Regions from separate parts of the Homo sapiens genome. Here regions 1, 2 and 3 are each reported to be linked to region 4. The links are microRNA targets in miRTarBase. Many come from high-throughput screens and were not tested one by one. Region 4 holds a microRNA gene; each other region holds the end of a gene's coding sequence.

Region 1 (7,120 bases), not on the chromosome of region 4:
TGAGAAATGAACTGTCCTTGCTCTGTAAATTCACAAGGGGAAAAAAGACATGCATTCTCAGGGTTCCCTCTGTCCACATCAAATTCTCTCAAAAATCTATTTGTAAAAAGGCCAGGGGTCTCTCAAGACAAGTCAGAATGTTTTTTAAAAGCTCAGCTGTCACCCTGTAGAGGTAGAACTTTATCCAGATTTTCAGCTGTACTTTCCTGCAATTTCTCTTTTCCTTCTCTGCTACCCAACCCCCTCCTCTTCCGCTCTGTTTCCTGTTTCATTTTCTGACTTCTGCTCTGACAGGAAAACAAGGAAGCTGAATCTTGTGCTCTCAAAGCCCTGACTCCCTGGTTTCAGATTGGAAGAAGGCTAGGTGGGATAGGAGGGGATTCTGGGACTCCAAGGCTTTGAGTAGTGACGGAGGCAGCCTCTCAGTGTTCTTGTAGAGTCTGCAGCTAAGATGGAGCCTGCATCTACCCAGGGAGCCAGCTGAGCTACCAGAACTGTGGAAAGCAAGTGAGAAAGAGCCATATCCCAGGCTCCAGAAAGACTCCACACTTCCCAGCCATTTCCATTAAGAAGCACATATCCCACATCACCAAGAAACAATATCACATACAAATCCCTAACCAGAACAATGCAAGCAATGCATTACTATTCTAGAAGCTTAGGATTTAAGAGGGTTACATCATTTCTGTTCTTTGAACTTGCCTGGCTCTGCTCTTGCTATTTTCCCTGCTTGAAGCACTCTACTTCCAGACCACCCTTTGGCTAGCCCATTATGTTTGGGTCTCCGGAGAGAAGTCACCTCCTTAGAGAGGCTTTCCCTGTACTATCCCATCAGTCTGTTCTGTTTTTTTTTTTTTTTTTTTTTTTTTTTAAAGATGAGGTCTCACTATATTGCCAAGGCTAGTCTGGAACTCCTAGGCTCAAAGGATCCACCCACCTTGGCCTCCCAAAATGCTGGGATTACAGGTGTGAGCCACTGCGCCCGGCCTCTGTTTTCTTCATAGCACTTAACACTATCTGCTTGTCCTGTCCATGAATTTTACTTGTTTCAATGTCTGTTTCCCTATTCTAGAATGTAAGCTTCTGAGTGTAATGGAGGAGCAAGGGCTTTGTTCACCAATGTATTTCCAGTTAGAACAGTGCCTTGCACACTGTGTGTCTTCAATAAAGATCTGGTCAATAAATCAATTTCTTTAATCCTATACCTATATTTTATGGATGAGGGAGCTAAGGATCACAAAGGGTAAGTGACTGGCAAGAAGTCACATAGCTAGTGGTAGCGATGGGACTTGAATTCAGGTCTCCAGCCTCCCAGGCTGGTTCTCCCACTCTACACTATTTTAATCTTTCACAGATTTACCTCTTTCCCTCTCTTCCATTTTTCCCATATGTAAGAGTCTTTACGGGCTATGCTAAGATGGGCACACCAAGTCTTAACAGCTCTGACCTACTCTTTCCTCCATCAAATTCCTATCTTATCTGTTTGATTTGTTCAACAGTACAGGAATGCCTACTATGTGATGGGATGAAGATGCAACACTGAGCAAGATAGAAACAATCCTTGCCCTGGTGGAGATGATATCTACCTCATAGGATTTATAGTGCTTGGCATACAATGCTCAATAAAGATGGGCTATTACAACTCACTGAACAAAAAAGTGATTTTCCCACTGAAAGTGTAGAGAAGGAAGTTAGGTGGTTCTCACAGAACACTCACTTCCCTGGAGCAACTGACATTTCTCTCTGTAGCTGCCTTGCCTTGCTCCTGCCTCCACTTCTGGAAGTGGCCTTGGCCCCAGGCTGGGCAGAGGACCAGCCCAGTAAGTAGCCCAACTACTCTCAGCAGTTCAGTTTCTAGAAGCTAAACTTTCCATGGCCCCAGTCCTATGGGATTGGAATAGCTGATCCTAATCTGGGATGCTGGCTCTGATGTCATGCCATTGTGGGGCGAAAGTGACCATACTGGCCTGCTGTACTTTACCAGAACTTTATGCTACTTCTTTTTGCTGTGGGATAAAAGGCATTCATTGGCAGTTTCCAAGATGCTGGGTGACATTTACATCCATCCTGACACTTGGGGTGACACCAGTCAGGTCTCATATACCAAAAGCATCCTTTTTGGCCTCTGCCCGATCACTTGAAGATGCCCATCCACCCAAGGACAAAGACTCTGCCTTGCCTCCAACTGCAGTACCCAAACACTCATCATTTAAAGCCCATGGTCACTAGGTATTTTTCACCATTCCTTCAGTGTTTGCCTTTCAGTGGTTAGAAAACCTTGACCCCACTGAGAGGCCTAGTGGGAAGGCCTTAGCCACTTGGGGGTGGCAGTGGCTGCAAGGCAAAAGAGCCAATGAGGTTGAGAGTATTGTTTAGGCTGGACTTGGCTGCTCTCCAGCTATGAAAGAAGGTTAAGGTCATTTGGGGGGTGGGGAGGGAGGAGCCTGGGAAAAGAACTACTGGCCACACCCCTGGGTTCTCTGCTGGCTAGGTTCTATTTACTTCTCAAAAGCAAATTACTCACAGCTCACTGGCCAGCAGTTCTCTTGGCCATGGTAACTCCAGTCAGAAACTGGAGACCAGGCTAGGCTCTCCCTGCATTGCAGGAGAGCAGATGAAAGGAACCCAGGAAACCGAACTCCTAGGTAATGCTCCACACACAGCCCAGATATGCAATTTCTAGACTAGCAAACGGAGCTCGAGGCCTAGAACAAAAATAGCCATTAGCAATATTGCTTACCAAAATTGTAGATATGAAAAGCTTCCCATTTACCTTTTTCTAGAAGAATCCTAGGAACGCATCTTGGTTGACAAAGGTTTTCCTCTCTCAATTGAGAAATACTAATTATTCAAATCCTGTTCCTGACCCAAATATTAACAGCCACACTTAGTCTGATGAACACTTGATTGAAATTCTGAGGACAATTTTACCTCGTGCTAAAGACAATAAAAACAAATCTTGCTTGCTGAGCTCCACAGCTAGATCCCTTACTCCTGGGTTGGGTTCTCATCCAGAAAGGAGGTAGTGTGGTATATTAAGAAAAGCATGATCCTTGGAGTCAGGTGGAACTTGCTTGGTGTATGAACTTAAAAAGCCTTTCACTTTTCTTAGCCTCTTTCTTCAACTGTAAAATGGGAGCCACATACTGACTTCACAGGCACAGGATTGTTGTAGGATTGTGATGTGCTATGTCCAGAATATAAGTAGGTACACAATAGAAAACTGTTGTTTCTTGTTTCAAATTTCACTTCTAAGTGTCCACAATGATAGCATTTTTTCTCTTTCTGCTTCTGATTTCTCCTGAGGAACTTGAGGCTTCTCTATTGTTTCCCTAAGGAAGGGGGTGAACAGAGAAACTATATATTGTGACATTAGCCTCATAAAAGCAACTGCATCTAGCCAACATCGACAGTATCATTCAACTACTACTTAAGTAGATGCTATGTGCCAGTCTATGTGTTAGCACCAGGATGCAGCAGTGAACAAAACACCCCTCCCACCACCCTCAGTTTACATTTCAGTGGAAGGTGACAGGTAAGTACAACACACAACAGGCCAGACAGTAACAAGTGCCACAGGAAAAATAAGGCAGACAAGGGAAACATAGTGGGGGGCAGAGATTGCTATTCTAAGTAAGGTGACCATGAAAAGCCTTACTTATATATTTGGACAAAGACTTGAAGCAGTCGAGGACTTGAGCCATGCAGTTATTTGGTGAGAGAGTATAAAGTACAAAGACTCCAAGGTGGAAACATCTCTATACAGTGGGGTGAGCAACGGGCAAGACAGATGGTGCAGGAAAGGTAGAGGTAAGCTAGATAACTCAGGGCCTTGTAGGCCACTTTTTAAGAGTCTGGATTTTTACTTACTGAGTCAGAAGCACTGAAGGCGTTTGATCTGACTTACCTTTTATAGGGGTCCTTTTGGTTGCTCTGTTGAGAATAGGTTCAACCAGGCAAAGCAGAAGCAGGGAGGCCAATTTGGAGGTATTTCAAGAATCCAAGATATGACAGTATCTTGAACTACAGTAGTGTGGGATTGAGGATTATTTTATGAAGAGTGCTAACAGATTGGATGTGGAAGTGAAAGAAGTCAAGGATTTTTTTAGCCAAGTGATAGAATGGAGTTGCCATTTACTAAAAGGAAAACACAAACAAAAAAACCAAAACTATGGGAGAAGCAGGTTTCTAGTGGGGGAAGACAGGACATTTTAGCTTTGGCATGTTCAAAGTAAACTTCCAAGCAGGGATGACAAGAAAGGTGGCTGAATGCTCTAGTCTGGAGTCAGGGAAAAGAGCCAGTCCAGAGATATTATAAGTGATTAAGTTGGAGATTGCCTCCAGATAAATGGTTGTCTTATTTTGGAATATAGTAAATAAATGACAGGGTCCAGGAATGCCACTATTTAGGGGAGATCTCACACTAAGGGAGGTTTGCAAAAACAGGACTATCCCCCTGCCCCCCGACAAAAGGTCAAGTTTTAGTTTGAAAACAATAAAAAGCTTCACAAAAGTCTTACCAAGATTTAATGTACATTTATTCTTAACACGTGGAACATATAGTATAAAGATTTCATACTGAATAAATGATATTCATTAAGCCAAAAAAGGAAAAAAAGGAGGAATTTACATCAAGTTTTAGCTACATTGTTGAAATACAAATATGCAGATTTTATCACTGAAAAAATCTCAATTGTGTTTCTTCATCAGAACTTCAACTGAACCTAGAACTTTTTCACACCTCGATTAGAAAGAAAACAAAACAAAACAAAAACCCAGAAAAAAATAAACTATAAGTTGATTGGCTGCTGAGACAGCAAGGACTTTTTACAGAGACCTGTACAGCATCGCACCAAGAGGGGCGATATCTGGCAAGAGATTAAATAGCTGTGTCTCGCTTTGTGCAGGTCACCAACTTGTTAACTCGTCATACTATAAAGGGGTAGCTGGGAGGAGGACCAAACTGTGGGGATCCAAGGGTATGTGCAATGTACAACGTCATATATATACACACGTGGCAGCGTAGCCGCTGCAGCTAAAGGTTAAAACCAGTTCTAAGAGGTGATCTCAGGGTTATTCATACAATCAAGGAGGAGAGAAAGAGGTCAGGGTGTTGTAGGTTCACACATGATACTTTGGGGGAAAAGCCTTTTTTTTTTTTCTCCTCAACGTTTAACTAAAAACATTTTTAAAAACTACAGCTTGCTGCTGACCCAGCGTTTTCTGTTTCCATGTGAGACATTATTATTACAGTATGTTTACAGTATCAGGTGTACAGTACAGTACATGAAAGGGTCTACACTCTACTGCACAGGCCTCTCCAGTGAACAGGGTCTGTTCACAACTGCGAACTTCTTGGCTCCTGCAAGATTGTGAATGTACAACAATAAACCACACACAGTTCAGCAGTCACCTTTTTTGTCCTTCAGAATTTTTTTTTGTATTTTTTTTTTTTTTTTTTACCATTAAAAACAGTTATGAAATGTGGCATCCCGTTGATGCAAGGACTGGGAAAGCCATTTTTATTTTATTTTTTTTCCCCAAACTCACTGTAAACAACAGTAACTTTGGTTAAAATAAAAAAAGTCTTCTATGTAGGCAGAGCTTTGTCTTTTCAAAGAGGGTGGGGTAGGGTCCTGAGGGGAGTAAGGTGAGGACAAGGAACAGAAAGGCGTGAGGTGATGGAGGGAGGGGAGGTGGAAGGAGGAGAGAGAAACAGGAGAGACTTTTTCCCAAGGGAGAAGCTGGACAGCACAGGGTAAACTGGATTCTGAGGTGGTTTTGCATAAATAAAGGGCAACAGTCAGTTTCTAAGTTCTCCACACACGCACACACACACGGGGGGGGGAGGTGTCCCACGGCTGTCATGACTGGCCAATCAAAAACAGTACATCACAAATGACTTGTGAAACCAATGAGTTCATCAACGGTGATACCGAGATGTCCAACAGCCGTGATTCGTACAGAGTAAACTCTGAGTGGTTCTCGTCCACCTTGGCCAAGGCAAGCAGCGCGCGGGCAGCCCGCCGCATCATGTCCACACTAGTTGGCTCAAAGGGTGGGTTCTGCATGTGGAGGAGGCTGGCCTGGCTCTGCTGGAACTGTGTGGCGGCAAGGCTGTCCTCTAGGAAGCCCAGGAGGTTGCCGATACTGCCCTTCTGCACTGCAATGGCACGAGCTGCCAGGCTGTCCCCCTGAGCCAGGTTGGCCAGCAGTACCACAGCCATCTCCCGGCACACCGGGTTCTTTCGGTCACTGAGGAAGCGCACCATAGTGCTATACAACTTCTCCAGGCGGCTGAAGGGGGGTGTGGCCAGAATCAGGTCCACATTGTTGTCCTGGATGCTGAGTTTGCTGAGGGTTTCCAAGACCAGTCTCTGCGGGGAAAGGACGGCATTGGGGCCCAGGGTGGAAAAGGGGTCCTGGGCTTCAGCTGAAGGGCAAACTGCCCAGTGTAGGAGTCCGTCCAGGACAGGCAGGCAAATGCTCTCGGGGTATGGAGATAGGTCCAACTGCCCCGAGATGTTGGCGAGTGTAACCAAGGTGTTTTCCCGGAGCATCTCCAAGCAGTCCCACCACCACTCCACTTTGTTGCAGCTCACCCCTTGGTCCTGTTCCTCCTCCTTTTCATAAGTTAGTGGTGCCTGCTTCCGTTCTGGGTGCTTGTGGTGCAGCAGGATCAGCTTGCCCAGGATGAGCAGCAGCCCTGGGTGTTTGGACATCTCAAAGTCATTGCCTGGCACAAATGACAGGCTTCGAATGGTATTGGACACACAGACGCAGCGCTTGGCAAGAGAATCCTGCCAGTCCAGAAGGGTACACAGTGGGGTCTCATCCTTACTGTGGGGTTCGTCCTCTAGGATCTTGATGTTCCGGTGGCTCTGTGCTGGGCTAATGCCAAATGGAAACTTGCTGCTCTCCTTGATGGCCTCTGAACTCTTAGCTCCATCCTCGGTCAAGGTGCTAGACCGAGTAGACAACATGTCATCCATAGTGGCTGTGATCCGTTTTTCTGGAGGTCCATCAGGTGGGGGCCCCTCCTGGTCTGTTGTCCCTGGTGTACCCTCTGCTGTTGTCACATGCTTCCGAGGGGCTGGTGGGCAGGGTGCGTGAGGCCGGG
Region 2 (7,120 bases), not on the chromosome of region 4:
AGTACTAAGCCAGAATATTCATTTAGATGCAAAGTGGATTCTAGGGTATGTGATGTGTGTATTTCAAGAGTATTTCCTGTTTAGATAGCAAGCTTTATGAACTACACAGTATCTCAAATAAAAATTACACAGAAACTCATGCCTATGAAGAGACCTGTTTATTACTGATAACACTTCATTTGGCTAAAACCACAAGAAATCCACACACAAATACATAAAGTGCAAATTCTCACAGGCAGTACTTATAATACACCCTGGTGTTTTTGTAGGGAAAAATGAGAAGATGTTGACAGAAACTGTTAAAACAAGGGCACAATTTTGAACTACTGCTACACACTTTAGTCAGAAAAATAATTCATTCTTGACTGCATAAATTTTACCTGGCATATTCAATGAGGCATACAAAGAGTTTATTCTAGCCTAGAACAACAAGGCCTCACCATACATAGAAGCAGAGTCTTGCTTGAGTGGCTCTTGTAAGATACATGATGAATCATAACAGTGGACAAAAACATACCAAATAGGATCAAATTTGTTGTGACTCACTTGGAAGGTAGTGCTACTAGGCTCAAAATGACACTTAGACTAGTGATATTAAGTCTACATAGACACCATTTCTTTACCTTCCTGGCCAACACCTTGCTTTGAGTGTAAAATACCAGGCATTATATATAATTTCCACAGAGAGATATGCTTTGCTCTCTCCAAAGAAACTGAGTATTTAAGGGGATGTCTGCTTAATAAACATTACATTATAAAGTTCAGTGATGGGACTTCATTGAAAAAACTGAATTAGAAAATTCATTTTTTGATTGTTCCTTAAACTATTTGCTACTTTTAAAAAATCCCTTAATTCCTAGTATCAGCAATTAAACACTCTATAACAGGTACTGAACTAGGTGGTATGGATATGAAAAATAATAAACCACGATTCCTACTCTCGGGACTGAGCATCAGGTGGTCCTTTTTAGTCAAGGAATGCCAATAGTAACAAAACTGTTTCAGGTCAGTTTAGTTTGGCATTAATCCTTCTGAAGGTCAGATTCCAAGGGCAGGAAATAGTCTGGATATGTTCTATGTTTATATATCTTTTTTTTTTTTTTTTGAGATGGAGTTTCACTCTTGTTGCCCAGGCTGGAGTGCAACGGCGCGATCTTGGCTCACCACAACCTCCACCTCCTGGGTTCAAGTGATTCTCCTGCCTCAGCCTCCCGAGTAGCTGGGATTACAGGCATGTGCCACCACACCCGGCTAATTTTGTATTTTTAGTGGACACAGGGTTTCTCCATGTCGGTCAGGCTAGTCTCAATCTCCCGACCTCAGATGATCCACCTGCTTCGGCCTCCCAAAGTGCTAGGATTACAGGCATGAGCCACCGAGCCCGGCCTATGTTTATATATCTTGCACTACAGCCAGTGTGTGTAGCTCAAGGACTTGCCTCCACTGGGGGTGAGGGCACTGGGGGAGAAAACTGAGCAGCCACGTGATGAACATGGTGCTCCTTTGTGGTGGCATAAGTTTCAGTAAAGATTAAACATATCATTTTTATATTAAAAGTTTTATTATAAAGAATGCAAAATTCACTTACATTTTAAAGACAGAACACACTTCATGTCAGTGGTAGGCTGATTCTGATTTTGCTCTCAGAACCCCTTCCCCCTTCATCATGCCCCTCTGCTTTAGGGTTACGCTAGTGGAAAAATTTGAGCAGCAAACTCTAGGTATGTCACTTTGTCCCTATTTGGTCACTCTACACATTCTTATAGGTTCTCTTTTATAAGTACATAGTCTTGAATAAACAAAGAGGAAAGATGGTCTAATAAATATATAGTATGGTGAATACTTTAAGGTAACCAGTAGTCAACACTAACTTTGTTTCCAACTAGAATTAAATTCATGCTGTGCAAGGAGTCAGACAATGAGCAATTCTCATCTTACTATTTATACCTCTATGGCTTAGGGTAAGATGCTCTGAGGGACAAATGTGAATAAGATTTCCTTAGATCTTGTGCTTTGGCTCCCCAAGTACAAGGAAACCTGAAATAGAATGTTATGTCAATTGCCCATTCATTTTGGTTAGTACGACTCTTTCCTCATCAGTTTCTAGAACAATCTCAGATGACAAGTGAATTGTAAAAGGCCGTAATAAATTAACATATAGCAGTATGCAGACAGATCAAAACAGGTTATGAAATAGATTTAAAATTACTTCCTACAATAAGTCTTAAATATAATGACAACATTAACAAAATAACCAAAGGTCCATAGGCAAATGTAGTTTATGACTAAGCTTAAAGCATTCTGAATGAATACAGTTGAGATTTCTTATCAGTGAGGTAACAGGGCAATAGTCCTTCACAGTAACAAAATGTGCAAGGGTGCCTAGGAAAAGTGGGAGGTAGAGAGAAAAAGGCATAAAATTAAATGTATCCAAGTGAAGTTTGGATTTTTCAAGCATCACAAATATCAATGGAAAATGTGGAAAAAAGTACTGATAGCAGCAGCTCATAGAACAACTTATCCATTAAACTACAGCTAATATCCCTGTTGCATCAATTCCAGAAGCAACTTGCTTAAGAAATGGGAGGTCTATTTCCTATATAAAGACATTCCAAAGTATCCAATCTCTTAGAACCTCTCCATCTGCTAACGTATCTACATCAAAATAACAACATATATATTCAAAACGAAAACCTCAAATAACCTAAGCCACTATACATTCTTCAAGATGAACAAAATTTTGTTCAAGTCTCACTTAATTTGCCAGGTTAAATTAAAAATAACAGTGAAGCAGGAAAATTATTCATTGCACTTATGCATCAGTTACTCAAAACACACAAAAATTGTTTTGTGAGCTAAATTCTTCTAGATATGGAGTGAAACCCAAATGTTACTTTTAGTGCCCTTTATGACATTTTTGTTCTAACCTGAGTTTTTAAAAAAAATGTGCTGGAAAGAAGGACCCTTAAAAAGTCATCTGTATATCTCTTAATTTTTAAAATTTTTATTCCCTTAAAAATAAAAAAAAGATTTTGAATAGAAGATATTATGAAGATTTCTCAAGAAGTTCCTAAATCTTAAACTTTCCATGCTGTCTTTAAAAAAAAGATCCTTATTCCCTCTGGTTCTGTCTTCACTAGAGATGGAGAACACTATGGCATAGTATTTCTTACTTTGAACCCTTCAATAAAAGACTCAATAAAGCTTTATTAGCAAACTTAGCAAACTATCTCAACAGCTTTCTCCTCTCCAGAGTCAAACAATCTTTATTCCTTGAACTTTTTCTCAGAAGTCTTATTTTCTAATCTACATTTTCTTCCTTTTTATTTCTGCTCTACCTCTTCCTGAGTTCTCACATGATTCTGATACAACATCCTAGCAGGAACTGAATCCGTAAAAGGGATACTTTTTCTCACCTCCTAAACCTTGGCCTCATTTTAGTGATCACAATAAAGGAAAATGGTAGGTGCATACTCATCATAACAACAAATAAACACAAGTAAACAGGTGGGACACAGTTTATTCCCTACTGTTATGGTGTTACATTTGCCCTTCACGAGAAGCATTTCCCGTGTCTCTTTATATTGTTTGCTTATTTCTACTGTTTATTTCCAATGTATGCTTTGATCTTGCCCTACTAATTCTCTCCTTTTCTCCAAAGCTTTAGAAAATTCCAGTTTTGACTTTCATGCTCAATGAGAATGCAATCATTTTCACAATATTGTTCAAAAAGAAAAAGATAAACATTGTAGTGCCCGAGGCTGAGACCTCCTAGCCAGCACTTCTGTCTCTCCTGACCAGCTTGGGCTATCACTGAATTTATCCTGTTAGGCAAATGTGCACCTACTACATCAAGTTCATGTTAAGTATCATGCTCAGACAGACTCATGACAGGCTAGAATAAAATAATTCCCTCAATCGATACACTTCAGGAACATTTGTAAAATTTTGTTAACTTGAGAGAAGAACACTTCAATAACTTTTCACCTTAAGATGACTTAAATGTTGCATTATATTAAAGCACTCAAATAAAACTGTTTTCTTCATAATAGAATGACAGTCATGACATGGCTTTAGTAACTATGAATGAGCCGTTGATTCATTTTAGCTTCATTTTTGTTTATCAGTCACTGAAACACAGAACTAAACCAAATATACCTGTTTTTCATATATACAACATTATACCACTTTGCAGAATATATGCCATTTCCTAAATTACAATCTACATTCTTAAAAGCATATAAAACAAAAGATGTTTTACACATTTTAAAAATAAAACAAAAATTCTACACATATCTTCTCCAGTGCAAAGCCTTTGAAAACAAACTCATTGAGAAAAATGGTGCTCTACATTTAGCTAGCTGTCTATTATCTACAGTCATACAGTCATATAAGATCCAACAATAAGAAAGTAAGGAAGGAACAAATTAACAATAGTGGCAATACAATAGTTGGACAATTAGGTTTGGATTATATGAGCTCAACCAAATGTTAGCTGACAGCTGCAACAAACGAAACCATGATTTAAGGAACATTCTAATCAGTTCAAACTTTATATTATTATTTTATATGAAATAAATTCTCTAATTACAGTGCTATCTCCCATAAGCAATTTGTTTAGGTCTTGTTATTGTTATCTCCTAACTATACCCCATATGTATTCTGAGAACTATGTAGGACAAGATACATTTTAAGAAGATTAAACACAGCATTTCTTTTTCTCTCTCTCTCTCTTTTTTTTTTTTTTTTTGAGATAAGGTCTCACTCTGTCATCCAGGCTTCAGTGCGGCAGTGTGATCATAGTTCTGTAACTTAAACTCCTGGCCTCAAGCAATCCTCCTGCCTCAGCCTCCCAAAGCGCTGGTATTACAGATGTGAGCCACCAAGCCCAGCCTAAACAGCATTTCTCTATTAAACCTTTTCAGAAGACTGCATGATTAGCCAAAAGTGACTTTTTTTTTTTTTGAGATGGAGTCTCCCTCTGTTGCCCAGGCTGGAGTGTAGTGGCGTGATTTCGGCTCACTGCAATCTCAGCCTCCTAGGTTCAAGCAATTCTCCTGCCTCAGCCTCCCGAGTAGCTGGGACTACAGGTGCCCACCACCACACCCGGCTAATTTTTGTATTTTTAGTAGAGACAGGGTTTCACCATATTGGCCAGGCTAGTCTCAAACTCCTGACATTGTGATCCACCTGCCTCAGCCTCCCAAAGTGCTGGGATTACAGGCGTGAGCCACTGCGCCCAGCCCAAAAGTGACTTTTTGTAAAAAATTATTTTCTACACTAAAAGAAGATAAATAATAGTCATGCAATCAGAAATTCTACAGAAGTCAGCAAGATGTTAGAATAAACTGGACCTCTGTTTTAAAACATGTAGTTTTAGTATTTCATAATACTTAAAATTTGGATGTTTTATTCTTAGTAAAATTAACATTACTTCATAAAATAAAAGAATAAATCTACTTACAAAAATGTAATTCAAAAGTTAGACTGTCAAATAAATTCAGAGCTCCTTTCTCAGTTCAGATTTTTTTCTGTAATAAAAGGTTTGATAAATGACACAATTCTAATATGAAGATCCTTAACTACATTAAGCTTGCTTTTATTAAGATCTTTATTTATATTCCTAAGATTTTAAAATCAGCAAACTCACTTGATATAGAGGAAGCACCTACAGATTTTGGAAGATTTTCCTTAGCTATCTGCAAATTGACTGATTAAATTATGGTAAATGCAGGAACACTGTTTTTTCTGTTCACACCAGACCCTGAGAAGGCACTGAGAAATTTGATAAGAACAAAGCCAATAGGAGTGTTGCCACTATTGTTTTATGTTCAGTAAACATCAGAATTTTAAATACATACAGTAAATTTATACTGCACCAAGGGCACCTGAAACAGACATGCCAAAACCACACACTGTAACATCTGTTCTAAACTACAGAAATGCTAAATATCCTATTTCAAATACTCTAATTTGTAAATTAATACCTGTGATGTCACAATGACACTTTTTCATAACAATCAAGGAAAGTACCATTTTCTTGCCAATTTTATGGACTAATTTCCTTAACTAACCCTACAATTATATAACATTTACCTGTCTTTTTTTTTTTCTTTTACCATGCTATACACAATTACGAGATACAGAACTAGGCTTAATCACACTATAATAAGAAAACTCACTTTTGAATTGTGATGTTTCTGTTAACGGAAGGACAATACGTTACTATAATACTTTTAGTGTAATAACTTTTGTTTGAATTATGAAAAAATTTGAATCATTTCCCTCTAGACCATTTCATTTCAAACTTATACTTTGTTTAGTCTAGCCAGTTGACCAAAAAGAAAGAAAATAAAAGGAAAAAGATACTCGGCCAGATGAGATAGAGAGAGAATGCTAACACAAGGTTCAATGTATGCAGTTCTCGGTTGCTCTGTTCCATATGCCCACACAGTGTCATGACATATTGGTGTACCCCTAAACAGAACGCCAGATCAGTCCATTCTTACTAGGCTGAAGAAAATTCTCTATCAGAGCATCAATGAGTTTCTTCAGTTCTTCCTCCAGTAAAGCAGTGTCACTGAGGAAAAGATGAAGAGTTTTGGAATTATTTATTTTCATAGGCTTAAAATTTATTTAAATTAGTGTGATTTTTTAAGAGGTCCTGATGGAGTCATTAAACAATTGGTAAACAAAAGAGAAATTCACTTGGTTAAAACAAAACAAGACCAAAAAAAAAAATTACACACAAAGAAAACACTGCTATCACAAACTGAAGGTGAACTGCATTAATAGGAGTTCCTTGGCACATGATAAACAGAGGAGTGATGGTGTATCTAAAGAATTCTCCTGGGTCAGGAGAATGAGGTTCTAATGGCTTTGAACACAAATACCAGGTGTTAGGAGAAAATGGCTTCCTGAAATACTTTGAAAAATATTCAGTACAGATGTTATGGAATGATATATCTTTCAGGTAGCAGAAGGAGGTGTGACTAAAATAACGTGATGTTTAAAAAAATAAATGTGCACTTAAAAGAAGGCCCTTGAAAGTCATCACTGAGGTGCTGCCGTTGCCCAGAACATTTCGAGGCAAGCCTCTTTTAAACTGCCTTTACAGTCA
Region 3 (7,120 bases), not on the chromosome of region 4:
CCTCTTCTGAAAAGATTTCTCAAGGGCCAGAGTCCCAGGAATGTCTTCTGTCCTGGAAGGGGCTGAAGGTTCTAGAAGTTGGTTGCCAGCTTGGCTGTTTCACCAATGTGAATGTGAGTATATGTGTGTGCGTACAGTGTGCCTGTGTGTTCATGCAGGTGTGTCGGCAGGTGCTGCAATGCCAGGACCCTGCCCATCCATGCCCCTCTGCCCGCCATGCCCCCCGGTGCACCTGGCAGAGGCTGGGAGCCTGCAGAAAGCATAGCCGGTCAGACACTGCCACCTGCTGGACATACTGGGCACAGCATGCAGATGGCTTGGGGCCCTGGCACTTCATCTCCTAGATCTTCTAAGGCCCCCAGAAAGTAGTGTCCTCCATCACCCCTCATTGCCTATGTGGGCCTCTCTAGAAAACACTTACAGGGTGTAATCTCAGCACTTTGGGAGGCCTGTAATCCCAGCACTTTGGGAGGCCAAGGCGGGCGGATCACCCTGAGCTCAGGAGTTCAAGACCAGCCTGGCTAACACAGTGAAACCCTGTCTCTACTAAAAATATAAAAATTAGCCGGGCATGGTGGCGGGTGCCTGTAATCCCAGCTACTTGGGAGGTTGAGGCAGGAGAATTTCTTGAACCCGGGAGGCAGAGGTTGTAGTGAGCTGAGATCGCGCCATTGCGCTCCAGCCTGGGTGACTGAGCAAGACTCCGTCTCAACAAATAAATAAATAAATATATATATATATATACACACACACACATACATACATACATATATATATATATAAAGGAAAACACCTACTGATGAAATTTTATATAAAGGAAAACACCTACTGATGAAATTTTTGGCACTATGAACCCCTTTAAGTCAAGTCAAGCCCTCTTCTCAGAATAATGTTTTCAAAAGCATAATATAAAATAGTGCTGGACACACTGGCTCACACCTATAATCCCAGCACTTCAGGAGGCTGAGGCAAGAGGATCACCTGAGGCCAGGAGTTCGAGACAAACCTGGGCAACACAGCAAGACCCCATCTTTACAAAAAAAATTTTTTTTAATTAGCCAGGTGTGGTGACTTATACCTGTGATCCTAGCACTTTGGGAGGCCAAGGCAGGAGGATCACTTGAGGCCAGGAGTTCAAGACCAGTCTGGGCAACACAGCAAGACCCCTATCTCTACAAAAACTTTCTTAAAAAATTAGCCACCTATAATCTCAGCACTTTGAGAGGCCAAGGCAGGAGGATTGCTTGAGGCCAAGAGTTTGAGACCAGCCTGGGCAACATAGCAAGACCCCGTCTCAACAGAAAATTTAAAAGTCAGCTGGGTGTGGCAATGGACACCTGTGGTACCAGCTACTTGGGAGGCTGAGGTGGGAGGATCGCTTGAGCCCAGGAGTTCGAGGCTGCAGTGAGCTGTGATCACACTACTGCACTCCAGCCTGGGGGACAGAGCAAGACCCTGTCTCTAAACAAATACATAAATAAAGATGTAATTTTTCCCATCCAAGTACCTCAATGCTCTCCATGGATCCCTTGGGGATTAGGGTAGCTCAGTTTAAGAGACTCTGACCCATTCCCTGCCTGATGACCCTGGAGCCTCCTCGGCCCGTTGGCCCACTACCACATGGGACCCAGCTTAGCTTGCTCCCTCAGCCCCTGCCACACTGTCTACAGCCCACCTGCTCTCCCAGCCTCCAGCCTCTGACCTTTCCTCCTCAACACAGAACAAGGCACCACTCTCAGAAGCCAGGCCAGTGGCTTTCTGCTCCAAGGATGGATAATTGCCCGATCTGATGTCCAAGAGGCCGCCATGCCAGAAGGGGCCCACACCGCAGTCCCTCTCTCCAGGATTCAGGGAGGGAGGCCCCTGCCTCCTGACACCTGGACATCACCACGTCTCACACCAGGGCTTCCGGGCCATTTGTCCTGACCTATGGGGTCTTCTGGACAGTCTGGACAGACATTGAGTTTGTTCCTTAGAGTCTTGTGTTCCCTCCCCTAATTCCAGTCATTGTGAGGTTACAACACAAGTGTGAGGAAGTAACCCTTTCTCCCTTCCTCACGCCATCCCTCTTTCCTTTCAACAATATTTAATGAACACCTGCTATGTGCTGGGTAGTATTCTGGGTGTTAGAAGTAGAAATAGTGAACAAAATAGGCAAAATCCTTTCTTTCTTCAAGTTTATATACCATGTAAGGCTCAGATTAAATAAATAAGTTAAGGCCAGCTGCAGTGGGTCATGCCTGTAATCCCAGCACTTTGGGAGGCCGAGGTAGGAGGATCCCTGGAGACCAAGGGTTCCAGACTAGCCTCAGCAACATAGCAAGACCCCATCTCTACGAAAAATTTTTGAAAATTAGCTGGGCATGGGGGTGGGCTCCTGCGGTCTCAGCTACTTGGGAGGCTGAGATGGGAGGATTGCTTGAGCCAGGGAGGCTGGGGCTGCAGTGAGCTATGATTACACCACTGCACTCCAGCCTGGGTGACAGAGTAAGACCCTGTCTCTATAAAAAAAAAAGTACAAATAAATTTTAAAATAAATAAATTAATAGTATGTTAGGCAAAGCGTGGTGGCTCATGCCTGTAATCCCAGCACTTTAGGAGGCCGAGGCGGGCAGATCACTTGAGACCAGCCTGGCCAACATGGCAAAACCCTGTCTCTACTAAAATTACAAAAAAATTAGCCAGGCCTGGTGGTGGGTGCCTGTAATTCCAGCCACTTGGGAGGCTGAGGCAGGAGAATCACTTGACTCTGAGAGGCAGAGGTTGCAGTGAGCCAAGATCGCACCACTGCACTCCAGCCTGGGCGACAGAGCAAGACTCCATCTCAAAAAAATAAATAAATAAATAAATAGTATGTTAGAAGGTGACATATGCCATGAGTATAAGGGCAGGTAGGAGAGGAGAGTGCCAAGTTGACCTCACAGATGAAGGTGATGTTTGAACAGCCGTGAAGGAGCAGAGAGGGAACCCCACACGTGTCCAGGAAACAGCATCCTGCCCGGCAAAGGGAACAACTCGGGAAAGACCCAGCCAGACAAGCAGCAGGGGCTGGGGGTGACAAGGTCACAGGCCAGGTTGGACAGGGATTTGGGAGGCCACCAGAAGGATTTGGGGTTTGCTCTGAGAAGGGAGACACTGAAGGGTTTGGGGCAGAGGAAGATGTGGTCTTGGAGCAGTTTTGTGGACAAACTTCTGGCTCAGTGAGGGGTGAGCAGGAGCTGCCAGGCATTATGAGAGCCCTGCCAGGGACCAGGGTGGTGGCAGCAGGGGAGGAGGGAGCAGCGGTCAGATTCTGGATCTCAGTTGAAGGATTTCTCACAGGATGGATATGAAATGTGAGAGACGGAGCTGCCGAAAATGACGTGGGGAAGTCTGTTTCCTGGGGCTGCCGAAACAAAGTACCACGAACTAGGTGGCTTAAAACAACAGCAACGGGACCAGGCGCGGTGGTTCACACCTGTAATCCCAGCACTTTGGGAGGCCGAGGCGGGTGGATCATGCGAGGTCAGGAGTTCAAGACCAGCCTTGCCAACATGGTGAAACCCCATCTCTACTAAAAATACAAAAATTAGCCGGGTGGGGTGGTGGGTGTCTGTAGTCTCAACTACTCAGGAGGCTGAGGCAGGAGAATCGCTTGAACCCGGGAGGCAGAGATTGTAGACAGCCGAGATCGTGCCACTGCACTCCAGCCTTGGAGCAAGACTCTGTCTCAACAAAACAAAACAAAAAACTCAGGGCTGGGTGCGGTGGCTCACGCCTGTAACCCCAACATTTTGGGAGGCCAAGGCAGGAGGATAACTTGAGCTCAGGAGTTTGAGACCAGCCTGGGCAAGATAGTGGAGCCTCATCTCTACAAAAAATAAGCAGAAAATTAGCCATGGATGGTGGCATGCACCTATAGTCCCAGCTACTCAGGAGGCTGAGGTGGGAGAATCACTTGAGCCCAGGAGGTCGAGGCTGCAGTGAGCTATGATCGTGCCACTGCACTCCAGCCTGGATGACAGAGAGACTCTGTCTAAAAGAAATAATAAGTAAATAAAAATAAATAAGGCCAGGTGTGGTGGCTCACACCTGTAATCCCAGCACTTTGGGAGGCCGAGGAGGGCAGATCACAAGGTCAGGAGATCAAGACCATCCTGGCCAAAGATGGTGAAACCCCATCTCTACTAAACATACAAAAATTAGCCGGGCATGGTGGCACGTGCTTGTAATCCCCGCTACTTGAGAGGCTGAGGCAGGAGAATTGCTTGAACTAGGGAGTCAGAGGTTGCAGTGAGCCGAGATCACGCCACCGCACTCCAGCCTGGCGACAGAGTGAGACTCCATCTCAAAATAAATTAATAAAAAGAAATAAAAGAAACGCAGAATCCCAGGCCCCACTCCAGACCTCCAAAATGAAAATTCTTGTTTACCAAGATCTCTAGCAATTCTCATGAACCTCAAAGTTTAAGAAGCCTGCTAGAGACTAGTGGTTCTCATACCTGATATGCACCAGAATCGCAGAGGGCTTGTGAAAACAGGTGGCTGCCCCCCTACCCAGGCACTGCTTCAGGTATCAGGTCGAGCCCAAGGGTCTGCATTTCCAACACGTCCCCAGGTGTGGTCCACGTTCCTCCTCTGGCTCTAGAATCCCCCTGAGGTCTCAGACAGGGATGCATGTCCAAGTCACCTGGGGACAGCTCTCCCCACCTCCAGGGACCTGAACTGGCTCCCTTCAGTTGTCTTCACCACAGAGGACAAGTGGGATGTCCTGCTGCGTCACAGCACTGCCGTTGCTGTCTGCAAGGCAAAAACGTCCATGCACAAAAGAGAGACTCTGGCCACACCGTCTATGCTTGGCTATATTCAGAGCACACAAGCTTTATTTAGCAACAATGGCAGTATTTCATGAGAATGAGCTGCACAATAGTGTAAATGCCATTTTCTGCACACAGCCTGGGAGCAGATGGTTACAGCGACAGAGCCCAGACCCCACAGTCCTCCCCTGCCCTTCCTGACAGGCTCCGGCTACTTCTGGCCTCATTATTGTCTCAGCCACAGCCCAGGTCGCTGGGCCAGAAGGGAGGGTGCAGGCTGGTTCCGCTGCTCAGGCTCTGTCATCCTGCTTCTTCCTTCTCAAGGCCACCTCGGGAGCAGCTGGCAGGCAAGAATGCCCCCCTCACACACAGGGAACCCAAGTCCCTGCTGACTCAACCTCTTCTTTTTTTTTTTTTGGAGACAGAGTCTCGCTCTGTCACTCAGGCTGGAGTGCAGTGGCGCCATCTGGGCTCACTGCAAGCTCCGCCTCCCGGGTTCGCACCATTCTCCTGCCTCAGCCTCCCGAGTAGCTGGGACTACAGGCACCCACCACCACGCCCGGCTAACTTTTTGTATTTTTTTAGTAGAGACGGGGTTTCACCGTGTTAGCCAGGGTGGTCTCGATCTCCTGATCTCGTGATCCACCCGCCTCGGCCTCCCAAAGTGCTGGGATTACAGGCGTGAGCCACCGCGCCCGGCCTTGACTCAACCTCTTCTACCGCTGCAAGGCCTTTTCCTCAGTGAAAGTTTCACAGATGGGTTTCGATAAAATAAGGTGATATTTATAAAGCACTCTGCAATCACTCAGTATTAGTCCTGCCCCCCATCCAGCCCCCTGCCAGCCAGCAGGGACTAGGATGGCCTTATAAAGGGCGCAAGAACTGCAGAGACAAAGCACAAAGGGAGGGCCCGGGCCCAGAACCTGTCAGGGCTGCTTGGAGGTCAAATTTCCTTTCAGCTCTAGTGCAGGGTGCATCCCAGCAACCGACTTAACCAGATACAGAGCTGATCATCTGAAATGCCCATGTGACGCATGTGTTTATATTTCTGTGTGTGTGTGTGTGTGTGTGTGTGTGTGTGTGTGTGGTGTGTGTACATGCACACTTCTCTCTGTGAGTGTGCCCATCTATGTGTACAACCTTTAGTTATGGATTTTTAACCCTTTATGACCTTCTTTCTAGCTCTCTGGCACAGGTAGGGCTGTCTGGGGGAGGAAACTGAGAACCCCCAATGGACAGCAGATGTGCCAATATGAGAGGAATGGGCAGTGGGCAGCCAGGCCCACCTGGGAGTCAACACGGAACACCCCAAGCATCAAAGTCCTGCACGAAGCCTCTTCAAAGGTAGGGGGTCAAGGGGGTGGTAACCGAGTGGGGCTTATGTCAGTGGCTGGACTGTACAGATGGGTGAATGGCTGGGGTCAGGGGTGACAGAGAGGGAGGGGCTTGTGGCAGTGGCTGAACTGTACAGATGGATGGATGATCCAGGCCAACAGCCCCACGCAAATGAACCCCTCCTGGTCAGTGGTGCACACCACCCTGCTGGAAACTCCAAGTCAGCAGTCAGTTAACACTGAGATGGGGTGGGGAGGGGGAGTGCTCACACGGTGTAAGTTTTGACAGACTTATAGAGGGGCGGGAGCAGCCCGTGGTTCTCACGAACAATTTCCAGGTACTCAGATGGAGTCTCCAGCAAGAAAGGCCCACAGCACATCTGGCAGCAGCACCTGACCCCAGAGGGTGGCTCCGGGTTCTTGTCAGACATGGGGGAAAAGTCAAAATCAGCCACCTATGATGAACAAAATCCCACGGGTCAATCACCCACCCACCAGGAGCCCCATCAGGTGGCCTTATGAGCTCAGCTGCCTGGTGGCAGAGTGCACAGAAACACCTTTCTGGCACCACACAGATGCAAGAGATGGATATAGGAGATAAATCAGATGGGACACCAACTTAGCAATTTTTCCTGGTCTACAGATGCCTCTTGGGCACATCACCCCAAGTCCCGGAGCCTCGCTGTAATATCAAGACCCCCTCCAGGCATCCTGGCCTGGCCCCCATACCCTCTCTAAACATCCTCTCTAGGCAAGGCCCAGTAGTCCAGCCCCCACCCCACTGAGTACCCACCTCCACCATGTCCTTTTGCTGAGTGGCATTCCGCAGGGTCATGTACATGATGAAGGCCAACATCACAGTGATAAGTGTAGCACATGGGAAAGCAAAGACAGCCGGCTGGATTCCTGGGAATGAAAGAAGTAACATTACAGGACTGGGTAGCTGGTACTACAGTGCTGGTTCTCAGGAAGCAAGCACAACAAAGGAGG
Region 4 (7,120 bases):
GACTTTGTGTGGCAGGGTTGCCTTCCCTTTTCAAAAGTGGTGTCACAGCCTGGGCAGACCTCAGGACGGGAATGTGACTCCAGCGAGACACAGAGGTGTGGGACAAATGGCTGCTCCTTCTTTTATAGTTTTATATAATTTTTAATGAGGCAGAATTCCCATACCATAAAATTAACCATTATAAAGTGTTCAGTCCACTGGCATTTAGTATGCTAGACCTGTTGTGCAACTACCATGTCTATCTAGTTCTGAAACATTCTCATCATCCCAATATAAAACCCCATACCCACTAGGCAATCATTCCCCATCCCATCACCACCCCCAGTCCCTGGCAACCACCAATCTGCTTTCTGTTTCTATTAATTAATCTATTTTGCATACTTACAGAAACAGTCATATGTGACCTCTTGGGCCTGGCTTCTTTCCCTTGGCATAATGTTTTTGAGGTTCATTCATTATAGCATGTAGCAGAACTTTATTCCTTTTCATGGCTGAATACTAGTCCATTGTATGGATATACCACAATTTGTTTACCCATGCATCTATCAATCCTTACTTGAGTCATCTCCACCTTTTGGCTATTGTCAAAAATACTGCTGTATCTTTTTGAGTCCTTGCTTGTAATTACTTGGGTGTATACCTGGGGTGGAATTGCTGGGTTGTATGGTAATTCTGTTGAACTCTTTGAGGAGCTGTCAAACTGTGTTCCATAGCAGCTGAATATTCTGCATTCATACCAGCAATGTATGAGATTCCAATTTCTCCACATCCCCACCAGCACTTGTGTTTTTTTTTCTTTCTTGGTTTTTGTTTGTTTGTGTTTTATTATGATACTGATGACCCTTACTTTTCCTTCCAGCCCTCCCCTGCTCACTCTTGTCTCCCTTTCACTTCAGGTCTAAGTATTAGTGACTTTACTGGACACTATCCTACATCTCACATGTCTTCCTGCTGCTATATTTGTCCCACTCAACCTCTCCTCTTGGCAACATTGGTCCCATCATAGTGTAATGAGCAACAACCCGTGGAAAGAAATGGGCTCATTCCTACTTTAGAGATGAGGAAAATAACACTCAGAGAAGCAAAGTAACTTGCCTGAATAACAGAGCCATCATTTAAGGCCAGGCCTTCTGACACCATCCAACCCCTAGTTCACCACATCAGGGTATTCTTAACCTCCTTAAAATTTTCTGCAAATTTGTATGTGTGCATGCACACGTGTGTGTTGCTGGGGAGAGGCCCATCACTTGCATCCGACTCTCCCAGGAGACACCAGCCTCTCACACGCCTCTTTTTCATTGCCCTCCCTGTTGTGGGTTCCATTTCTCTTTGGGTGAAGAGGGAGAGATGGCTTTGCGCATGGAGGCACTGGTTAAGATGGAGCATAGGAGAGACACAGCTGCAAGGCTCCCGACCCTACCTTACCCCATCCACCCTGCTCACTGCCTGCTCAGCCCACTCATTCAGTTGCAGGGAGGCCATGCTCCTTCCAGACTGCTGAGCTGCACAGGGCTGGGCCTCCACACTTCTGTGCTTAGGAAGGATGGCCTTACCTACCTTTCTCAGTGGGTCAGCTTCAGGAAGGGGTTGTGAGCAAAGGTGATGCTTGCCCAGTGTCCTGTTGCAACAGTGTAGCGGAGCTTGGGTATGCCACAGGAATAGGAGCAGGATTTTGCTTTTCTCAAGTTCAGTGTAGCCAGTCTGTCACTAGACCTGCTGGGTCCCTGCATGGTGCTGGGTACCAGGAAAGTAGACACACACACACACACACACACACACACACACACGAGTATACAATACAGTCCCTGCCCAGAAGGACTGTTTATTCTACTGGGAAAAGGAAATATGAACCTATTCATGATGGAGACTGTGTAGGGGAAGAAAGACTAGACTATGCGGTGTAGACATACAGACTAGACTATGCAGTGTAGACATATAGACACCATAAAGACATATATAGACAGGTATAAAGTGTGATGCCTGGTGCAGGGTTAAATAAAGTCAATGCAAAAGGGGTTAGAAAGGAGAGCACTTTACAGGTTGAACCATCTGGGAAAGGCTTCAGGAGGGAGACTTCCCTGGGCAGCTCCAGTCTCTCCTGTGTGCCCCGGGAGCACATAGCTGGTGACGTCAGTGGGGACACTGAGGCCTGGGGAGATCGAAGCGATGGTGCTGCCTTATTGACTACAGGTGCCCAATGGGGCCTGCATGTTGAAGGCAAGCTTGCCAAAGTGTCTCACCAGTCCCCAGAGATGAACTAACTTCCTAGCAAAAAAGCGATGAATAACTATGAAGGAGAGGAATTCCCCTTATGCCGAGGGACTTTGTCCCTTCTGAAGCCAGAGTAACCAGCCACACCTGTGTCACCAGCTGTGGGCCTAAATTCCTCGGCCAGTCTCACTTTCTCACCAGGAGCCTCCAGATTTGCTGAGAGTCACCTGGGGTCTCCCATGGATATCTGGCTCACTAGCCAAAGCCTGTCACTCCCAGGTTCCCAGGGAGTCTGAGTGCAGTGTCTGTGGCCACCTCATGGCCAGACCAGGAACTGTGACCCCCTTAGAGTCCTGCTGTAGTGGGGACACACTCCATGCGCCAGCCACTGCAGCCTTCCTGGGATGCAGGTACCACTCAGTTGCCAAGGCTCCCTGCAGCCTGTGTTTCCATGGAGGGACAGAAATCAGAGAAGGCTGTTGCCTTGGAAACCCTGTTGGCAGCAGTGACTCAGCTGGTCTGTAGCCACCTTCAGCCCTCCAAACCTGCAGGCCTCTGGGGAGATCTGAGCCCTGACGAGGGCAGGCCTCGTGGGACAGCAGCCCTCCCTGCAGGCCTCCACCTGCCCACCCCCAGGGGCGCTGAGGCGAGAACAGAAAGCTGTGTTTGGAGTGTGCTAGGCTGGTGCCCAGCGTGTGCTTGGAGCTCAGTGCATGCGAGAGAGTCCTGAGGTGTGTTTTACCCACAGGAGACACTGGGGAGGTGGTATCAGCCATTCTAGTCAAGCCAAGTCCCCAGTGCCCTCCTCCCCTATGGCCCAGGCGGGTGCAGAACACAGAAGACTACACGCAGTTGGTGCTTTCACAGGCCAGCCTGTCTGCACCAGGCAGATTGATGAGTTAAGAGATGTTTGGATGTTCCGGGCCTTTCTCCACCTGCTCACCTGTAGCCCCAGCACATCACAGTTGTGGGGACAGCCGGGGGCCGGGGGAAACTTTTTCTTTTCCTTCATGCCTGTTATACCTTGCACACCATTCCCCACCCCAGCTCCACCATGCCCCTTGCCTACCCCTTGCACCCTGACCCCTAACATGCTCTAGCCACAGCAAACTGGCACCACACATGCTCCTAACTCTAGGCCTTTGCCTGCGCCGTGTCAGCCTGGGACATCCTCCCAAATTCCCTGTGCTTGGCCAGCTCACCTCTCACCTTCCTCCTGCCCCTCGCCCAAGACAGTTCTAGACGCTGCTCCTTGGGGTTCCTGCAACGATCCCTTGTCCCCAGCGGGGCACTTGCTGCTCTACTGTGGGGGGTGATTATCCCGCCAGACACCGAGAGGGGCAGTTGTGTGCACTGTTTACACCTGGGTCCCAGACCCTGTCCAGAGCCGGGCACAGAAGTGTTTGGTGAATGGAGAAATGAGCCATCAAATGGGGCTTGGGTTAGCCCCCTGTTCTCTTCCACCCAGGCCTTTGCTGGTGTTTGCAGCTAGTTTCTCCTCCTCTGGGTTCCAGGGCGCCTCTGGCCATAGGACTTTTATGACACCGATCTCGTGCTGCCCCCAGTGGTGCTCCGGCACCCAGCCCTGTTAGAGGAGTTTAGGATTTGTTCTAAGGGCCATCCACTGTCTGAGGGCAGGAACCAAAACTGATTTTTTTTTTGGTTCACAAGGCCCAAAACAGAAGAGATGCTTGGTAAATGTTTAAACAATGAACTAGTTACTCTGAAAGGTGAGATTCGTATGAACTCTGCAGCTGGAAAATGACCCAACTCATGGGACATCTCTCACCATTCCTCAGTCAATACCAGTAATAATAGTAACTGACAATACTTACTATGCACCGGCCATGCTCCAGCCTCTGTTCTAAGTGTTTGCCTCATTTATTTAAAACTCGCCACCACCCAGAGAGGGAGGAACTGTTACCATCTTCTCTTCAATAGATGAAGCAACTAGGAGACCCAGAAATTGAGTAATTTGCATGAGGCTGGGTTGGCTCCAGAATCTGTGTCCTTAATTAATCACCCTCCTGCCTCTTTGCCTAAACAACAGCAACAATATTAGTGGTAATGAAAGTAGTCATAGTAGTAGCAATATATTTACTTCATTATTTATTTTAATTTTGTTATTATTACCAGTATTTACCATTAAACATATGTGTGTATGTTTAAGATATATTTAATGGTAAATACAGATAATAATACATACACAAGAAATATACACACACACATTTATAAACAAACAAGCTAAACATTTATATATATATATATATATATATATATATATATATATATATATATATAAGCTAGACTATATATGTGTGTATATATGTACCGTTTACTGTGGGCTGTCACAGTTCTAAGCATCTAAGCACTCCAGATACATTCATTAATTTAATCCTCCAGCCACCTTAAGATGTTAGACACTATTATCCTCATTTAACAAATGAGGAAACTCATTTGATGAAATGAGTACAGAGAGGTTAAACAACTTGTACAGGGTCCCCAGTTGGTAAGGGATGCAGCGGGGATTCAAACCCTGGGAGTCTGGTTTCGGAATCTGCACCCTTAAATATGCCAAAGATTCAGACCTCTGGCCAGGGAGTTGGGGCCAGCCTCTCTGGCCCGAGGGCACGCCCACTCACAGAGGACATGAAGACAAAGCATAGACTATCTGAGTGGGCTTGCTGGACTGACCCAGAGTCAAGCCAAAAAGGAAGGAAGCCCTATTGGGTTTTCTGCTAGCCCCTGCCAGCCTATGTGACCTTGAGAAAGTTGCTTGGTGTCTCTGTCCACTGATCTTCTGTTCAGTGTAATGGGGCAAGGTGGATGGGCTTTGACAGGAGTTGTGATGAGTAAGGAGCTTAGCTTCTCTGCCTGGAAGGAGCAAGGGGAACTCTGGTTCCTCTCCCACCTCCCTCCAGGTTGGCTGTTGCATTACGGGAGGACCCCCCCCCCACACACACACAGCTTCTCTAGGGCTGTTTCCTCTAGGTGGGACAGCCCCTGCAGGGCTTGAGGGTGGGCAGCACCAGGTATCTGCTGACTGTCCCTCCTCTCCTGCTGGCCGGATGGGACAGGAGGCATGAATGAGCCATCTTTCCAATGCCTTTCTGTCTTTTCTGGTCCAGGTGTGGCAAAGGGAAGCTGGAAGATGGGGATGGCATCAACCTGAATGACATCGAGAAGGTCCTTCCAGCCTGGCAGGTAGGTGCAGGGGCAGGCTCTCTAACAGCCCACCCCCACCCCTGGAGTCCTGATCCTCTTCCTGGACAGGACCTAACCAAAGCACTCCTTCTGGCTGCTTGTTCCAGCAAGGAGTGTAACCGCCTGTATGGTAGTAATAGGCAGGGCTGGCTACCTGCCATTCTCCAGGGTGTCCCATTGTGATCGTGTGTGTGACAGCCTACTCGGTGATGCTGCAGGCCCTGCTGGCAGGCCTGATGTGCCCTAGAGATGAAATAGACCATGCCCTGGCAACTCAGTGAACTTGGAAGTTTTTGTCCCTTGGCCTGAAACCTCTCTGCAGGTGAAGTGTCCTGTGGTGTGTTCAGGTGGGACTGGCAGGCCTGGAAGAGATTCTAATGTGGCTGGGGCTGTCTTTAGGCTTTTGAACAGTGGACTTGCCCTGCTGGCCTCCAGGTGTCTGCTATGCTTGCTCTTTTTTTTATTGATTGGGCCTCTTTCCTGGAATCAGGCCAGGTTCCAGGACAAAGAGGATTCACTCAGTGAATCCAGGTCTCTAGATACTTATAGTGCTGGACTTTTGGTGGAAACAGCAGGAGTCTAGCTGCTCTCAGGAGTGTGACTGGGCCTGCTGCAGGGGTGTAAAAGCAGTGGACCTTCCACAGTGACTGAGTCTGCCGCTGCCAGTGACCATGACCTACCACCACACTCCACTGTGCCACCCTTCCCTTCTCTCCTGATTCTTCTCCTGCTATTTTATCTATATCCATTCATCTCTTCCTGGTGCCTTTGCCATTTTGTTTCTTCTCTGTTCATGCCTTGGGCCTATCAATGAGAGACAATAGAGCATACAGTTAAGACCTCATCTATTTGATTATGATGTGCCTTGGTGTGGTGGTTTTCTTCATGTTTCTCCCACTTGGGATTTATTGAGTTTCTTGGATCTGTAGGTTTATAGTTTCATCAAATTTGGAAAATTTTCAGCCACGATTCCTCCTACTTTCCCTCAACCCTGGGGTTCCAATTGTATGTATTCTATGCTTCTTCATCTTTTCCCATGGCTCACCAAAGCTCTGCCTGATTTTTTAAAGTCTTTCTTTACTCTCTGTGTTTCATTTTGGATAGCTTTTATTGCTATTTCTTCAAGTTCACTAATATTTTATTCCAGTGTCAAATCTACTGTTAATCCCATTCAGTATATTTTTCATTTCAGACATTGTAGTTTTTATCTCTCGAAGGTCATTGTGGGCTTTTTTAATAAGCCACTGTGTCCAGCTAGAATCTGCATTTTTAAAGCATTGTAGGAAATTCTGATTATCAGCAAGAGTTGAAAACTTAAAGTCCTGGCTGATAATGCTCCTGGCTTGACTGCTCCTTGGAGTATCTACAATTCACATGGGTACCCTTAGGACAAGGTAGACAGGCTTCTTGATCCCCAAACACAGACTTTTGGTGTTTGAGGAATTTGCGGTCCTGTGAGAGCACAATGGGATGACTTATCTGAGTTTTCCTAGTGTTCTTCAAAGCCCCTCATAAATAGGGCTGGCTGGTTCACTCGTCTGGCCTTGGGTCCTGAGGGTCAGCTGGCCTAGCTATTAGCATATGTGGTGGGGACAACTCTTAATAGTATGGACGTGTCCAATGCAATGTGGGATATTTAGGACTCCTGGCCTCTGCCACTGAATGGCCGTCACTGGAGAGGGGCAGGCATAGTGACCACCAAAAA

Evidence for each region. The annotated mature microRNA hsa-miR-4743-3p reads UUUCUGUCUUUUCUGGUCCAG and lies in region 4 at 5,319-5,339, shown strand. An mRNA with a match to its seed (bases 2 to 7 or 8) in the 3' UTR can be bound and repressed. Matches are read on the target gene's strand: a 7mer-m8 pairs with bases 2 to 8, a 7mer-A1 pairs with bases 2 to 7 and ends in A, and an 8mer does both.
Region 1: the mRNA of ARID1A is a reported target of hsa-miR-4743-3p. Seed matches in the 3' UTR shown: 7mer-A1 at 5,221-5,227.
Region 2: the mRNA of PGM2L1 is a reported target of hsa-miR-4743-3p. Seed matches in the 3' UTR shown: 7mer-A1 at 6,198-6,204, 7mer-A1 at 5,746-5,752, 7mer-A1 at 5,529-5,535, 7mer-m8 at 3,783-3,789 and 7mer-m8 at 3,126-3,132.
Region 3: the mRNA of TMEM130 is a reported target of hsa-miR-4743-3p. Seed matches in the 3' UTR shown: 7mer-A1 at 5,842-5,848.

What each region holds. Positions count from the first base shown.
Region 1 is chr1:26,779,501-26,786,620 of GRCh38, reverse strand. ARID1A (AT-rich interaction domain 1A) reads right to left here. Exons shown (of 20, transcript NM_006015.6): 20 at 4,517-7,120. The coding sequence ends at 5,865. Among named protein-coding and RNA genes, the nearest start is that of PIGV, 4.9 kb to the left of the region's middle.
Region 2 is chr11:74,330,175-74,337,294 of GRCh38, forward strand. It overlaps PGM2L1 (phosphoglucomutase 2 like 1), which reads right to left. Exons shown (of 14, transcript NM_173582.6): 14 at 142-6,580. The coding sequence ends at 6,478. All of the region lies in intron 2 of LOC112268078 (a long non-coding RNA gene), which reads left to right. Among named protein-coding and RNA genes, the nearest start is that of P4HA3, 22 kb to the left of the region's middle.
Region 3 is chr7:98,841,660-98,848,779 of GRCh38, forward strand. It overlaps TMEM130 (transmembrane protein 130), which reads right to left. Exons shown (of 8, transcript NM_152913.3): 7 at 6,924-7,036; 8 at 4,831-6,549. The coding sequence ends at 6,397. Among named protein-coding and RNA genes, the nearest start is that of TMEM130, 25 kb to the right of the region's middle. RefSeq lists enhancers at 176-225, 5,857-7,056.
Region 4 is chr18:48,665,330-48,672,449 of GRCh38, forward strand. It overlaps MIR4743 (microRNA 4743), which reads left to right and starts at 5,271; the gene lies at 5,271-5,339. CTIF (cap binding complex dependent translation initiation factor) reads left to right here. Exons shown (of 12, transcript NM_014772.3): 6 at 5,340-5,415.